2 separate regions of the Homo sapiens genome follow, and region 1 is linked to region 2. Evidence: fine-mapped expression QTL. Tissue or cell type: lung. Region 2 holds a variant in brackets; the other region holds the start of a gene. All regions are shown on one strand. Distances are between the middles of the regions.

Region 1 (8,181 bases), 41 kb after region 2:
CCATTTTATCTCCATCCCAGACACAGGGCTCAGAAAAGCTCCAAGGGCACAATTAAGAATTGAAAAGTCATGAAGAAAATTGATAACATAATGTGATTTAAATAGGGAGAAGTAGGCGTCAAATTGAGTGATTTGAGGAGCACGTTAAAATGCTATTACAGCCGGGTGCGGTGGCTCACACCTGTAATCCCAGCACTTTGGGAGGCTGAGGTGGGTGGAGGTCAGGAGTTCAAGACCAGCCTGGCCAAGATGGTGAAACCCAATCTCTACTAAAAATACAAAATTTAGCCGGGCATGGTGGCGGGCGCCTGTAATCCCAGCTACTCAGGAGGCTGAGATGAAGAATTGCTTGAATCCGGGAGGTGGAGTTTGCAGTGAGCCGAGATTGCGCTACTGCATTCAAGCCTGGGCGACAGAGTGAGACTCCGTCTTGGAAAAAAAAAAAAAAAAAAGCTATTACAAGACCAAGAAGCATACAAGGTTATATGGTGACCTCTCCCTCCCACTCCTATTTCACAGCCATCTAGTTCCTCTCCCCCAAGGAAACCAATGTTACTCATCTATTGCATGTCCTTCCAGAGATATTTTACGACTATACCAACAAATATATAAATTTATATATATATAAATTTATCTTAAATGTAAACGCTGTTCTTCTCAGATTAAAGTGTCACTTAAACACAAAAAGGTGGCAGAAATTACATTTTAAAACTTTTTCTCAAAATAAAGAGTTTTGAAATTCACAGTTGAACTCTTTCATTCATAAACATTTAAAAGTTAAATTGTTTGCCTCCAGAAATTAAGTTGGGTTCCCAGCACACAGTGGATACTTTAAAAATGTTTCCTTAGGTCTTTTTGTCGTTCCTTATTCAGAGCCAAGAGGACAATTACTCACTTCCTCTATTGATATAGAGAAATCAAATTTTATTTTTTACTATTAAAAAAGAGAAGTCTTGAAAAATCTTTACTGGATTTACTTGTGTTCAAAGATTTGCTTGACAGTAGTAATCATTTCATTGTGTTTATCAAAACATCATGTTGTACATCTTAAATGCAGACAATTTTTTAAAAGATTTGCAAACTGAATTTTAAGATCAGTTTAAAATCCCCATCCCAATAGTCTTCAGTATACTATGAATAATTAGCTAATCACATGACATTAGAATTCAGATTAGGGGGACCTTGCAGTAGAAGACCAAACATACCTGAGAGAAAGAAGAAATGTTTTCTCACAATTACAGACAGTCCTTAAAATATTAATATTTGGCATAACCTGAGACATCACATATTGACAAACTAAATTTCTTTATACATTTAAAGAAACACTAATACTCAAAGATATAGAACAAAATTACACAGGAATGCTGAGATGATATTGCCTTTTCTGAACAGCCATCAGTTACACTAGATTTGTAACTTGATTGTTCACAAAATAAAACAGTACACTGTAGCACAACCAAATGGCTGAAAGATGGAGGTGAGTTTTAAAAGTACGTATCAGCAAAGGAAAATTCCACTGTTGTCTTTAAGCCTTAAGATAAAGGTGATTGAACTCCTCAGAACACGGAGTACTCTCCAGAAAATATATTTTCAAATCCCCATTTATTTTCCATCCCTTGAGCATGTGTTTACGAATCTGACAAATCTACCTCCTATTTCACATTGTCCTTTAAGAAACTGGGTCTAGGGCCTATTAAATAAAAATATTTTCACGGTTATCTATATAAAGGCAATTTTCATTTGCATCATGGCTTGGAGTCAATCACCTGCAATGACCACGTGCTTCAATTCCCCCCTGTCTGTCTTCTCAGGAAACCTCCCAGCTTACCTGCAGGCCTGGCATCAGTCATTTATCACCAACTGACACAAACCACAGAGCTCAACAACGGTCAGGGATGGAGGCCAAAGTCTGTGTTGAGACCTATAATTCGCAATCACCAAACTCGGTTTTAGACCTGGTCCTGTTTCAAGATCTGTGTAGGTCACTACTTCATCAAAACTGGAGGGCTCTTAACAGCGCTTGCCCCTTACACGGTTTGGCTGCGAGGGCCTGGTGGCCATGAGCCCCGGCTGTCAACAACTAATCAAGAAACATGAGAAGCAAGGCCCAGAACCAAGGGTAATTTTCACATTAAAGGTTAAGGTTTCTGCTTTCCATTCTCTATCAGGGCACCTGGATGGAAACTGAATAAAGAAATCCCTCAGTATATGTGATAAAATAAAATTTTCCCCGTTGGGAACAATCATGAAGTGGCTCGTCTATTTCGTGTGAGGATGCCAATTCAGGGGCTTTAACACCACTGAATTACATTCAAAAAGAGAATACCTGACTCCACTTTGGAGTCATGGGCAGGGCGAGGGGGGAGGCAGGGGGCACAGAAGAGGAAGAGGGATGACTCAGATTATGGCTGACATCCATGTAATAAAGGGAGATTTGTACTGACCACTGTGCATGTAACACACTGTGTACCATTAAATCTAGAAAAGGATGGTAGCATCAGCCCACCCCTAACAACAAAAGATGGCTGACTCCGGAATTAAAACCACGACTTTTCCCCTTCATACATTCGGAAATGTATCTCAAACTCACTCCCTGTTACCGTCTTAGGAATACAAAAGCTCCTCTTCGTTTGAGAAAGCAAGTAACTGGGTATAACTTTCCACTCGGGACATAAGAGCAGGAGGCGTGCCTGTCTCCTCGTCCAGGCCTGACATGGTGGTGCCACCCACTCTGGGTCCTGGACCACTGCTCACCTTTCACCACACTTCATGCTCTGACTTTATCATTAAGAGACCTGGGAATGTGGACCTCAGGAGTGGGTACCCACCCAGGCTGACCATGGATGTGGCGTCCAAGAGGCCCCACTAACCCATACCCAAGCAAAGACACTTTCAGACTTCGTCCCCACTCCCTACTGTGGCCTGTCCCCTGAGGTGATGCAGTCACCTGGGAAGCCACCCACCTCCAGCCACCACGCAGGCACACACACCCTATCGAGCTCAACTGGAGCGGGAGGTGGTGGGTAAGAGGTTTGCAACAGAGACCGAACGGGGCAGACGGAACCGGACCACCTCTGTCCCTTTCATTTTCCTGGGTTCCCAATGCAGAAACGTGGAATAGGGGTGGAATTGTTTTTAACGGTAGCAGAGAGCCAGAAAATGCAGACAGTTGACCTTGGGAACCAACACCGTCGCAGCGGGAAACGTAAAAGAAACGGAACACGTTGGCAAGTGAAGGGGGAGCACCGCGCGGCGCCAGGAGGAGCGCGGCGGCCGAGGGGTGTGGAGGGCGGGGGGTGTAACAGGGGTGCTCACCATAGATCATGGCCAGCCCGGTCTCGTGCAGAAAGCGCACCCGGCGGTGCTTGAAGAGCCAGATGGTGAGGATGGTGAGCGTGAGCAGCAGGATGAAGGTGAGCAGGCTCACGCTGTCTTGCCGGTGGCTCTCCTCCGCCTCCTTCTCAGTAGCGAGCTCCTCCATGGCGCTGCTGTCCTCCGCCGCCGCCCCAGAGGAGGAGGCCGAGGCCGCGGCCGCGACTCGCAGCCCCCAACCCAGCAGCAGCGGCAGCAGCAGCAGCCGCGGCGGCGGCGCCCCGGTAGCCCGACCCGAGCCAGGGCGCGCCGCGTCACCAGGCTCCATGGTCCCGGGGCCCCCCGCGCCTCCTCCGAGCGGGGACCAGCAGCCCGCGCCGTCGGCGGGTTCTGGCAGCACCGCGGACCTGCCGGAGTGGCCGTGGCCGCTGCAGCTCCTCCTCCTACTCGCGCCGGGCCGGGGCTGCGCCCGGGGCCGCGCGGGGGAGGGGCGCGCGCAGTGCGCAGGATCCCCAAGCACCGCCCCCCGCCCGCGCACCTGTTCGTCCCCCGGCCGCGCCACGCCGCACCGCCCCGCGGGCCAACCGAGCCACCCAGGCGGGGCCGGGTGTTGCCCTCGGGTCTGCGGGCCGGCCGCCGGCTGCTTGCCTCTCTGCGCTTCTCACCCCGTCCTGGCGCACCTGCCCAGGCAGTCTGGGGTCGTGGGGCCAGTTCATGGGCAGCCGCCGCCGCACTTCCGAAAGGGGACGCCAGAGGTCGCCGGCGCCTAGCGGGAGCATCGGCTTGGAGTGACTAGCCTTGCGGTCTCGAGTCCCGTCTCTGGCGCCACGGCGAAGTGTTTAATCTCAGGCCAGTGTGCAGCCGCCCTGGGCCCAGTAAAGTGGGGGCTGTCAGTGAACCGAGCAGCCCCGAAGCCACGTTAGCCCCTACACCTCTCTTTCCTCATCTCTCAGGTTGCCCTTCCAGCCCCAGAATCTGCTAGGTTTCATTCAAACCTCTGTTCTCATCAGACTCAAATGTGAGGACTGATAAGGAGTTGGAATCGGGGGAGGGCATTGAAGTATCTCCTTCCTCACTTGAGGGAATAGACTTCGTCTGCGCTGTGCTACTAATCCCCTTGGGGAATAGGGTTGAACCAGAAGGAACTGAACGCTTGCCATTCCTGGTAGATGAGCAGTAGCTGGTCCTAAGGTGGTGGTGGGGGGTGGGGGTTACCCTGATGACCCTTTCTTTTATGTTGCTCACCTGGTAGCTCAGAGAGTCTTTTAATGACTCTTAAGACCAAACCCAGCTCTGAACAAAATTATGGCGTGGACTCTGAAGGATGAAGCCTCTTGGAACAAATTCTCAGGAAAACTAGAATCTTCAATCCACCTTGCTCCTCTGGTCAAGGAAGAAACAAGATCAGATTAATCACTGAGTTCCCAGTGCTTAGCACTGTACTCATGTGTTTATTGAACCACTCTGAAATCTCTACCAAAACTGCCCATGTTTTCGCTCCCAGGGGAGTTTGCATTTTTAAGAGGATTCATTGAAGAAGGTGATGCTTAACCAAATGAAATAATAGGGTAGAGGTAGCATTAGGTAAGAAAACTCTTTGGAGTACTGCAGCCTTCCTGGTTCCCCTGTAGGTGAGCACTCTGCCAAAGCTGTTTAGTGGTTTCTTTAAAGCAGGGAAATCTCTTCATCTACATTTTAGCTAGCCCCTTTCCCAACTCCTCTAGGCAGTCACTCAGCCCCTGCAAACATCCGTATACCTTGAAGTTCCACACAGGTTTCCAATAAAATTGCAAATACTTAAAACCTGGATGGGCACTGTGTTGGTCATAATATTATGCCCCTTTGGGTGCCCAGTACTCAAGGACAGAATTTCTCTCTTTAGAAAAGGGCAACTCAGGAGCTACCTTAAAAGTACAGACTTCTTAGTATTTGTGGCGGATTGTATTTTTTAAAAAGATGGCCACAATCATATTTCCAATCCCAGAACCTTACCATCCCCCATCAAGAAGGGGCATCTATGTTCCCTCCCCTTGAACCTCAGTGGACCTTTGTGACTCCCTCAAAGAATATAATGTGGTAATGGAGATTATGTGATTTGTGAGGCTAGGTCATAAAAGGTAATCTAGCTCCTGCCTGTTTCATTCTGTCACTTTCCACTCTAGCTAGGCTGGGCACGGTGGCTCACGCCTGTAATCCCAGCACTTTGGGAGGCCAAGGCGGGCGGATCACCTGAGGTCAGGAGTTCAAGACCAGCCTGACCAACATGGCAAAACCCTGTCTCCACTAAAAATACAAAAATTAGCCGGGTGTGGTGGTGTGTGCCTGTAATCCCAGCTACTTGGGAGGTGGTGGCACGAGAATCACTTGAACCTGGGAGGCAGAGGTTGCAGTGAGCCAAGATTGCACCACTGCACTCCAGCCTGAGTGACAGAGTGAGACCCTGCCTCCAAAAACAAAAAAACAAACAAACAGACAAAGAAATCTAGCTACCTGGAAGCTGACATACTGAAGAAACCATGTAGAGAGACCATGTAGCAATAGAGGTAGATGCCACAGGAGACCCAACTTTTTGAGTGTTCCCAGCCCAAATGCCACACATGTGAATGAATGAGTCTTCAAATCAATTCATTCCCAGCCACCATCTTACTGTAGACATATGAGAGGCCCCAAGCAAGAACCATGTCGCTGAACCTAACCAACATCTGCAACTGTAGCATAATAAAATGATTGGTGTTATTTTAAGCTACTAAGTTTGAGGGTGGTTTCTTCCACAGCAATAGATAACCAGAAGAGTATTTATTATGTAAAGTAGTTCCCTTGGGTAGAGTATGAAAAGACTAGTCCCAACCATTCACAAATACACACCAAAGAAAACACTCCATTATCTCTACATATTTATGTGTGAAAACTAACCTATATAATACAGGAGTTCTGATTTCAGTTAACACAGAATAATCACACTAAACCCATTACCTGCTACTGAATACAGCTATAAAATGTGAACAGAATGCATGCAGCAACTATTTGAGGACTCTGGAAAGTAAATTGTACCACATAAACTGAGGAAAAACAACAGAATTTGAAGTAAAACTGAACTGGCGGTGAGTTTACCATTTTTTTCCTCCAGTCTCCACTAGACTGGACTCAAGGCAGCTTAACACCCGGAAGGGAGCATCAACATGGACAGAGAGAGCTCCAGGAAAAGCAGAAAATTGGTCTCCTAATATTCAGAGAAAGTAGGAGAAATGTGCCATTTTTTTTCTTTTCTCCATTCTCTTACATTTTAGCCAATAAGCAATCCCACTGTGGCACCTCAGTCAACAGTGACAATGGAGACAGCAATACCTTCAAGCACCCAAAAAATGCTAAGGGAGGGGAGAACCTTCCTCTCTGTTTGAAGTAGCTCTGGTCCCAAGACAGTGGGGCCAAAACCTCAATGATATATATTTTTTCACTCTCTCTGTCCTGATGCTTGGCCCAAGACATGGGCAAAGTTTCAGGAAATACATAACAGAGAGGATTAAATAAAGACCCAGATTTCTGGACAGGCACAGTGGCTCACCCCTGTAATCCCAACATTTTGGGAGGCTGAGGTGAGTGGATTTGTTGAGGCCAGGAGTTGGAGAACAGCCTGGGCAATGTAGCAAGACCCTGTCTCTATGAAACATTTAAAAATAAAATTAGCTGGGCACTGTAGTGCTTGCCTGTAGTCTTGGCTACTCAAGAGGCTAAGGTGGGAGGCTCACTTGAGCTCAGGAGTTCGAGGCTACAGTGAGCTATGATCACACCACTGTACTCCAGCCTGGGCGACAGAGCGAGACCCTGTCTTTAAATAAATTAAATAGTCTAGATTTCTTGCCAATTGATTAAAAGGGGAACTCCAAGGCATTACAAAGTACCAAGGAGACAGTAGAGAGGAGAGGACCTTGGGAAAGGTCCTCATAAAGTTTTTATGAACTCCTAGGTTCACCCCAACCTGCACATGGATCTGATCCTAAACAGCATACCAAAGACTGTGATAACTGAACTAAGAGGCAGACCACCACCCAAGCCCTAGACTAGCCACTGGATAAAACACATGTAGGACAGATCTGAATAGCATTACAAACTTTTGAAAACTGAATTGACTTTGGAGCCACTATCCACAAAAGGCATGTCAGAACTTGTGATCTAAACCCAAGCATGTCTATTACAAACTAAAACAAAAATATGAATATTTCCCCATAGTATTAAAACAAGATACAAAGTCCTATAACATAATATTCAAAATGTCCAGGATACAACCCAAAATTATTCAATACCTGAAGAACCATGAAAATCTTAACTTGGGTGGGAAAAGGCAAACAACAGACACCACTGCTGAGGTGACACCAATGTTGGAATTATCTGAAAAAGACTTTAAAGCAGCTATTATAATGATGCTCCAACAAGTAAGGACAAATAATCTTGAAATGAATGTAAGGATAAAAGGCTCAGCACAGGAGTAAAAGATAAAAGAAGAACCAAATTGAAATTTTAGGCTGGGCACAGTGGCTCACACCTGTAATCCCAGCACTTTGGGAAGCCAAAGCGGGTAGATCACAAGGTCAGGAGTTCCAGACCAGCCTGGCCAACATGGTGAAACCCCATCTCTACTAAAAATACAGAAATTCACTGGGCATGGTGGCATGTGCCTGTAATCCCAGCTACTGGGAGGCTGAGGCAGGAGAATAACTTGAACCTGGGAGGTGGAGTTTGCAGTGAACTGAGATCGCACCACTGCGCTCCAGCCTGGGTGACAGAGTGACACTCCATCTCAAAAAAAAAAAAAAAAATTTTATAAGTGAAGAATACAATAGCTGGAATTTTAAAATTGGATGGATGCAATAG
Region 2 (8,181 bases):
TTTTTTGAGATCCCCGACAAATATTTTTTGAGATCCCCGACAAATATTTTTTGAGATCCTACTATGTCCCAGGCACTGTTCTAGTGTTTGGAGATATATGTCAGTGAACGAAACAAATACAAATTCCTGCTTTTCTGGACTTCGTTATATTTCTAATAAGGGAAGAAACATAAGAAACAAAATAAGTAGATTACATGGTATGTTAGAATACGGTAGGTGCTATGGCTAAAAATAAGGCAGGGAAAGGGTTAAGGAGTGTAGTGTGGAGTAGAGGATTGTGAGTTTAGAAAGAACCAATAGAAATCCTGGAAAAGAAAAACATGACCTTAGCATTTTTATTTCATTTTCAAGTTCAACAGCAGACTAGACACAGTAAAGAGAGAACTGGCAAACTAGAAGATAAATTTGTTGAAAGAGATTCATTCATCAAGCAAATTAATACTTATTGAGCATGTACTATATATCAGACATTGCGCTAGATTAAATTATTCCATCTTGACAAAATTCCTTTCCACTTGGATTATGTTCCCAGGTTTAATTTCAACTCTTTAAGACCCTACCCAAGCTCCTTACTCACATTGATATCTCATTTCTCTCAATAAGTATCCTAAAAATAATTTTTAAAGAATTTTTAAAGTATTTATTTATATCACAGATTAGTCCAGTTCTTAAATTATTCCCTCCCTAACTAGACTGTAAATTCCTTGAGGATCAGACCTATAGGTAAGATTTCTTTTCTATTTCACATGTGGAATAGCACAGTAACAGGCATACAGTAGGCATTCAATAAACACTTGACTGATTTGGTATATTTTTGGGTCCCTATAACTGAACAGCTTTTTCTTTGTAATGGCTCAGTTACAGTTAGTTCCTGGAAATGGTCACAAAATTGTTAATAACTACATTATGATTCACTGATCCCAAAAATATGAGTCCAGTGGTATAAGGTTAAATTCTGAATCTAATCAAATTTTTGCGAATGTGCCCTCATTCTCGGTTAGTTGAAAATGACAAATGTCGCACAGAGTGTATTTTTCAGTCTTGAGAAGCCTTATACATGCCCTCTGACTTAGAATTGACTTACAATTTTTCCCCTTTAAGATGGTGCAAAAGCGATACACATTCAGTAGAAACTGAACTTTGAGTATCCATACAACCATTCTGTTTTCACTTTCAGTATGGTATTCAATAAATTATGAGCTATTCAACACTTTATTATGAAACAGGCATTGTGTTAGATGATATTGCCCAATTGCAGGCTAATGTAAGTGTTCTGAGCACATTTTCGGTCAGCTGGGCTAAGCTATGATGTTTGGTAGGTAAGGTGCATTAAATGCATTTTCAAATTGCAATATTTTAAACTTATGATGGCTTTATCAGGACATAACTCCATCATAAGTCAAGGAACATCTGTACATTACTTAATTTTATTTCTGGCAAAAGTCCTTAAGGCAGGCAGTGCACATATAGACAGCCCCTGACTTATAATAGTAATCTTATTTTATAAATCAAGATGTTGAAGTCTAGAGATATTAAGTGGTCTGCTCAAGTGAAGATGGGTACTGAAGACTGAAGGAGTGACTCAGACCTGAGACTTCTAGATCCCAGTCCAATGCTCAGATGCATAAACCTAGATGCATGATATATCATTAAGGGGATAAGTGGTAAGGTGAGAATTTGCAGGGCCTTAGAGGGCTCTGACTTGGTAAAGATATGCTTATTTTGAGCACGCAAATAGAAACCAGCCAGTTTCTTTATTAAAAAGAGAAGAAACAAACATTGATAAACCAAGAAAGGAATCCCTATTGCCTGCCTTAATTCAATAAACATTCAGCCACTGGATGCTATGAACCCTGAGACGACTTAGGCAGGATCCTCTTCAGTAAGACCAGAAGCTCTAGCACACAGCACAAATGCTGCAACAGACACAGGTGCTACAAAAGCACAGAGGGGAAGGAATTTCCTTGCCCAAGTCTGTTCTCAAATTCCCACTCACTCACCCCCTAAAACACTTTAAATATAGAATCATGCAGACTCTATGGCTATCATAAATGTACTGACTCTTCTGGTTTAAAATATCCATTGTAACCATTAGCAAATTGGAGATCTAACTGATTTATACCCAAACAAGAAGGGACGATTCTGATATCAATAGGCAAATAGTACCCAAGTGGCTTTAAAACCTTATTTGAAGCTATTTTGATCATAATGTGTTTCTTTTTATTTATTTATTTTTTCCTGTTTCTGATTCTAGTTCCCTGCTGTTTGGGGAAGGGGAAACCACCTTGTACTGAAGTCACTTGGCTTCTGGATAAAGCCAGAACTCTGACCAAAACGATAAAGGCTGCCCAGGACAGAAATGAAACAAAAAATCCTAGCCCTACTTCTCCATTGTGGACACCTGGTCTCATGAGTTATGGCAACACGCATCCACCAGAATAACCGCATTTTCCTAAAGAAATTGTGAAATAATTGGGAAGGGGGTGTCCCATTCTTGAGTAAGTAATCAGCATTGCAGACAAGAACTATGTCATAAAAACCAAAGTTGAAATTGTGTTACATATTCCTGGAAAATACTCAAAAGGTGCTCTGAGTTCTATAAGATGGACAGATACATTATACATACTAATTATACCAAAGGTCAGGTGATTAGAAATGCCACATTGTACCACAAAAATCACCCTGATACTTGTGTTAATTTTTCTTGTATTTGTGTAATAAAGTGTTTTGAAGTTTTTAAGAGAAAATTACTGCACAAGGAGCAGTCATCTTCTTAAATGTCCCAAAAAATACTGATGTAGGGTCATCCAAAATCTTTTTTTTGAGACACAGTCTGCTCTGTGGCCCAGGCTGGAGTGCAGTGGCACAATCTCAGCTCACTGCAACCTCCACCTCTGGGGTTCAAGCGATTCTCCTGCCTCAGCCTCCTGAGAAGCTGGAATTACACATGTGCGCCACTGTACCTGGCTAATTTTTGTATTTTTAGTAGAGATGGGGCTTCATCATGTTGGCAAGGCTGGTCTCGAACTCCTAACCTCAAGTGATCCACCCATCTCAGCCTCCCAAAGTGCTAGGATTACAGGTGTGAGCCACCATGCCTGGCCCCAATCTTTATTCATTTCAGAAACATACTTTAAATATTTATCCAACTGCAACTTTCAAGGGCTGTGAAAGACCTCTTAAAGGAGAACTACAAACCACTGCTCAATGAAATAAAAGAGGACACAAACAAATGGAAGAACATTCCATGCTCATGGATAGGAAGAATCAATATCATGAAAATGGCCATACTGCCCAAGGTAATTCATAGATTCAATGCCACCCCCAATCAAGCTACCAATGACTTTCTTCACAGAATTGGAAAAAACTACTTTAAAGTTCATATGAAACCAAAAACGAGCCCACATTGCCAAGACAATCCTAAGCCAAAAGAACAA[A/G]GCTGGAGGCATCACGCTACCTGACTTCAAACTATACTACAAAGCTACAGTAACCAAAACAGCAGGGTACTGGTACCAAAACAGAGATAAAGACCAATGGAACAGAACAGAGCCCTCAGAAATAATACCACACATACACAACCATCTGATCTTTGACAAACCTGACGAAAACAAGAAATGGGGAAAGGATTCCCTATTTAATAAATGGTGCTGGGAAAACTGGCTAGCCATATGTAGAAAGCTGAAACTGGATCCCTTCCTTACACCTTATACAAAAATTAATTCAAGATGGATTAAAGACTTAAATGTTAGACCTAAAACCATTAAAACCCTAGAAGAAAACCTAGGCAATACCATTCAGGACACAGGCCTGGGCAAGGACTTCATGTCTAAAACACCAAAAGCAATGGCAACAAAAGCCAAAATTGACAAATGGGATCTAATTAAACTAAAGAGCTTCTGCACAGCAAAAGAAACCACCATCAGAGTGAACAGGCAACCTACAGAATGGGAGAAGATTTTTACAATCTACCTATCTGACAAAGGGCTAATATCCAGAATCTACAAAGAACTTAACAAATTTACAAGAAAAAATCAAACAACCCCATCAATAAGTGGGTGAAGGATATGAACAGACACTTCTCAAAAGAAGACATTTATGCAGCCAACAGACACATGAAAAAATGCTCATCATCACTGGCCATCAGAGAAATGCAAATCAAAACCACAATGAGATACCATGTCACACCAGTTAGAATGGCGATCATTAAAAAGTCAGGAAACATCAGGTGCTGGAGAGGATGTGGAGAAACAGGAACACTTTTACACTGTTGGTGGGACTGTAAACTAGTTCAACCATTGTGGAAGACAGTGTGGTGATTCCTCAAGGATCTAGAACTAGATATACCATTTGACCCAGCCATCCCATTACTGGGTATATACCCAAAGGATTATAAATCATGCTGCTATAAAGACACATGCACACATATGTTTATTGTGGCACTATTCACAATAGCAGACTTGGAGCCAACCCAAATGTCCATCAATGATAGACTGGATTAAGAAAATGTGGCACATATACACCATGGAACACTATGCAGCCATAAAAAGGATGAGTTCCTATCCTTTGTAGGGACATGGATGAAGCTAGAAACCATCATTCTGAGCAAACTATCACAAGGACAGAAAACCAAACACTGCATATTCTCACTGATAGGTGGGAATTGAACAATGAGAACACTTGGACACAGGGTGGGGAACATCACACACCGGGGCCTGTCGTGGGGTGGGGGGAGGGGGAAGGGATAGCATTAGGAGATACACCTAACGTAAATGACGAGTTAATGGGTGCGGCACACCAACATGGCACATGTATACATATGTAACAAACCTGCACATTGTACACATGTACCCTAGAACTTAAAGTATAATAAAAAAAATTTATCCAACTGACTAAAATGGGTTAAACTAAAAACACAAAACCAGTTAATATATGAGCATAATAAATAAAATAAATAAAAGAGCACAACAAAAATAATAATTTTAAAAGTTGTTTGAGGAAAACCATAGAAAATAAGCTTAAAACTTTGTGCTTCTTGCTGACAAGAACAAAATAGAAAACACTAGAACAAACATAGGTTTCCTACTCTAGCTTAAGGTTTGATAACTCAAAAAAATATTTTGTTGGTCTTGTGCTCTAAGAAGAAACTATCTCAGGGTTTTGTGGAAATTAGGGGGAGGGGGCCACGAAGGTCAATAGCCTTAATAACATTTTTCTCCTAAATGTGAAGGCATTCCATATATGAGTAGCTCTAAGAGAAAACTAAAGACATAAAGTTAGTTTGGTTCTATAAGGGCAATTCCAGGAGTGAAAGGCTGAAGGGCACAATAACATGGTCTAATCTGTCATTTCCTGATGTTTTGACTTAAATTGTTTTTTGAGAAACTAGTAAGTAATATATTCCTTAAGAACATTCCTCTCTCAAATACCAAAATTTTCAGCCAGCCTTCTGACAAGAACAAGATGAACAACAAACATGATTAAGGTCATTACTGAGGACCTCAATAGCTGGTAACATAAAAGATCTATAGGCTACATCTTCCAGGTATGTTGGTTGTAATGATACTTGTTATGAAAAAGAAATCAAAGATCTTGACCTGCATATTCTTGTCTGCTGAAGAGAAGTTCTATAATCACAAACAAGACTTTCCTCAGAAACTAACTTTGGTTCTAGGACTTGAGCAATTATTTGATTCAAGCATAAAAACTTAGTGCCACTGAGTAGCACCTCATCACACCCATATCCTGTCCTTTCCCACTCCTGCCAACTCTACTTCTCAAGTATTTTCCTGATCACCCCCTCTTCTCCTTATTATCATTACTCTGGTTCAAGCTCCCTGACTGGATTTTCTGCAGTCGTTTCTTAACTATCCCCCCTGCTTCTCCCCTGATTCCCCAATCATTCCTTCTCCATCAGCCACCAGACTAATTTCTCTGAATCACAAATGAGGCTAGTCACGCCATGACCCTGCTTAAAATTATTCAGCAGCTTCATCATCCATGGGAAAAAAAAAAATCCAAGCTCCTTAACATGGCATTCAAGGCCCACAAAGCACTGGCACCTGCCAATTTCACTTCCCACTGCCATCTGCCCCTACACATAAACACTCATATTCAACTCCTCAGAATTCCCCACATACACCTTGCATCCTCCTCTACCTGGCATTATTGTCCTCCAAGACCTCCCTCACAGCCGTGGCAGAGAAGAGAAAAGAAGGGGACCCTAGCTGATGGAACTGATCATCCAAATAACTCCTGAAGATCACTGAGATGATATAACAAAGCAAAACCACCTACGTTTTTAGACTGCCAAGACTATATCCTGAATTTCCAGAATAAAACCTCTCAAAAAAGTGATAAAGCATCACATGAGTGGATGTTAAACGTAAGGCCTCACAGTACAACAAAATCTAAACTTAAGAACAAACAGGCTGAACAAAGGACTTCAAATCGGCATGCCCACAAAAGGATCGCCTCTGGTCCTTATACATATAACTACATTAATAATGATTTAAAACATTTTTTCTTACTGCAATTATCTTTATGGTCCTTTTTGAAAATATAATTTGATTTAAGGTGATCTTACAAAATTCCAGGGAATAATTCTTATTCTTAATAAAGTTTAATAGTCTGTTGAGATTCAAGTGTTCCAATAGGTATGGTTCTTTCCACTTCTAAAATTAAATCACTTAATGAGAATTGCCAGAAAGAGACTTCATTAGTAATTATCCATAATGGTAGAGAACACACAAGATACATTTGCACTGTTCTATTGTTATAAGCCAGCAGAAGAGTGGAATTTTCAAAGATGCAAATAGTTCCCCTCGGTCATATTACCCTGGATAGAAATTAGAGCTGCAAGCTAATAGGAGACTGAGGGACAAGGGCATGCTCCTCAGCCTGTGGTTTCTCTGGCTTCCAAAGCTAGAAGCAAATGATTCTTTTTTTTTTTCCAATCCATCCATTAAGCTTCCAAGAAATAAACACGTTTGCTTCAAAATTCAATTCCCTGTGGGGTTATCTTCAGATGCTGCATGGGTTTATTAGAATTAATTGCAACACAGCACAGCTTCCAAAGTGAAGGCCCAGGGTTGACAAAAGACCCTCCCTATCACAGCCACCAACCCACCAAAGGCTATGGGGACTCTCTTGCAAACAATATCTGAGCAATCTCGAGGAAGACAAGCAAAGGCCTTGCCTTTCTCAACTTCAGTCTAGAGCAGGTAGGGAGGGGTAGCCCATAAATGAGTAAACAAAGAGAAAAGATGATTACGTATTGTGCTAAGTGCAGTTAGTGAAGGCAGTCGGCGATGTTTGTCAGCAAGATGCATTTTTTTCCATTTTGCTTCCCACATCTGCAATCAACATATAACTTCATGGTATGAACTATTAAACACATAAACACTAGAACAAATGTGGGTTTCCTATTCCAGTTCAAGGCTTGATAAGTCAAAAAACTATTTTGATGGTCCTGGGTTCTAAAAAAACACTGTTTCTCTCTGGTGGGTGTGTGTGTGGGTGTGGGGGTGTGTGTGTGTGTAAGGGCGAGTAGTGAGTACTAGGGTCAACAACAGCCTTAATAGCACGTTGCCCCCAAATACAAAGGTGTTCCACATATAAGTAGCTATGAATGTGGGTTTCAAAACAAAAGCCTTAACTTAGAGTTTTATTATGTTTTAAAATCATCACTGTCTTAGTGTTTAAACACCTGTTTAAGTCCTCTTAATAAGGTAGAAATGCCTGTTTATGGCTTTTTAAAAATATAAACACAAGGATCCATAGCTTTAAAAAAAACACTTTGTTTCTGTGACAATGTTTGTTAATCTAGCTAATTGAGTTACTTGCAGAAAAATGGGGAACAGAGAGTGATAGTTGAGTTCTTCATGTACAAGTAAGCACTGTTACTCCAAATACCTTAGTTACCTGAATTATTCTAAGGTTATTTGTAAAAACTAAAATTCCACGAGGCAAAGAAGGACTTTTATCAATCCCATTTATATTTGATTTCTGTATTACACATAAAGAATTGGACTATTAAAGAAAGTAACCAAATGAGAGATGGATGTTTAAAAATAACATTAAATGAGTGATTTGGGAACTCCAAAACTTTATGTGACCAAGTTATTTCTTCTCTGTGCCTACAGGTCTTTGTCACACTGGGATTGCAATTTATTAGATGCCATA

What was found. PIP is the estimated chance that this variant, and not a neighbour inherited with it, causes the effect.
Region 1: SLC9A7 starts here. The variant in region 2 is fine-mapped to the expression of SLC9A7 in lung (TOPMed, PIP 0.93).

What each region holds. Positions count from the first base shown.
Region 1 is chrX:46,755,390-46,763,570 of GRCh38, forward strand. SLC9A7 (solute carrier family 9 member A7) reads right to left here and starts at 3,729. Exons shown (of 17, transcript NM_001257291.2): 1 at 3,316-3,729. The coding sequence starts at 3,640. RefSeq lists silencers at 3,501-3,640, 3,661-4,010.
Region 2 is chrX:46,714,576-46,722,756 of GRCh38, forward strand. The region is part of intron 1 of SLC9A7 (solute carrier family 9 member A7); the gene reads right to left. Among named protein-coding and RNA genes, the nearest start is that of SLC9A7, 40 kb to the right of the region's middle. The variant A/G (reference allele first, on the strand shown) is at 3,438.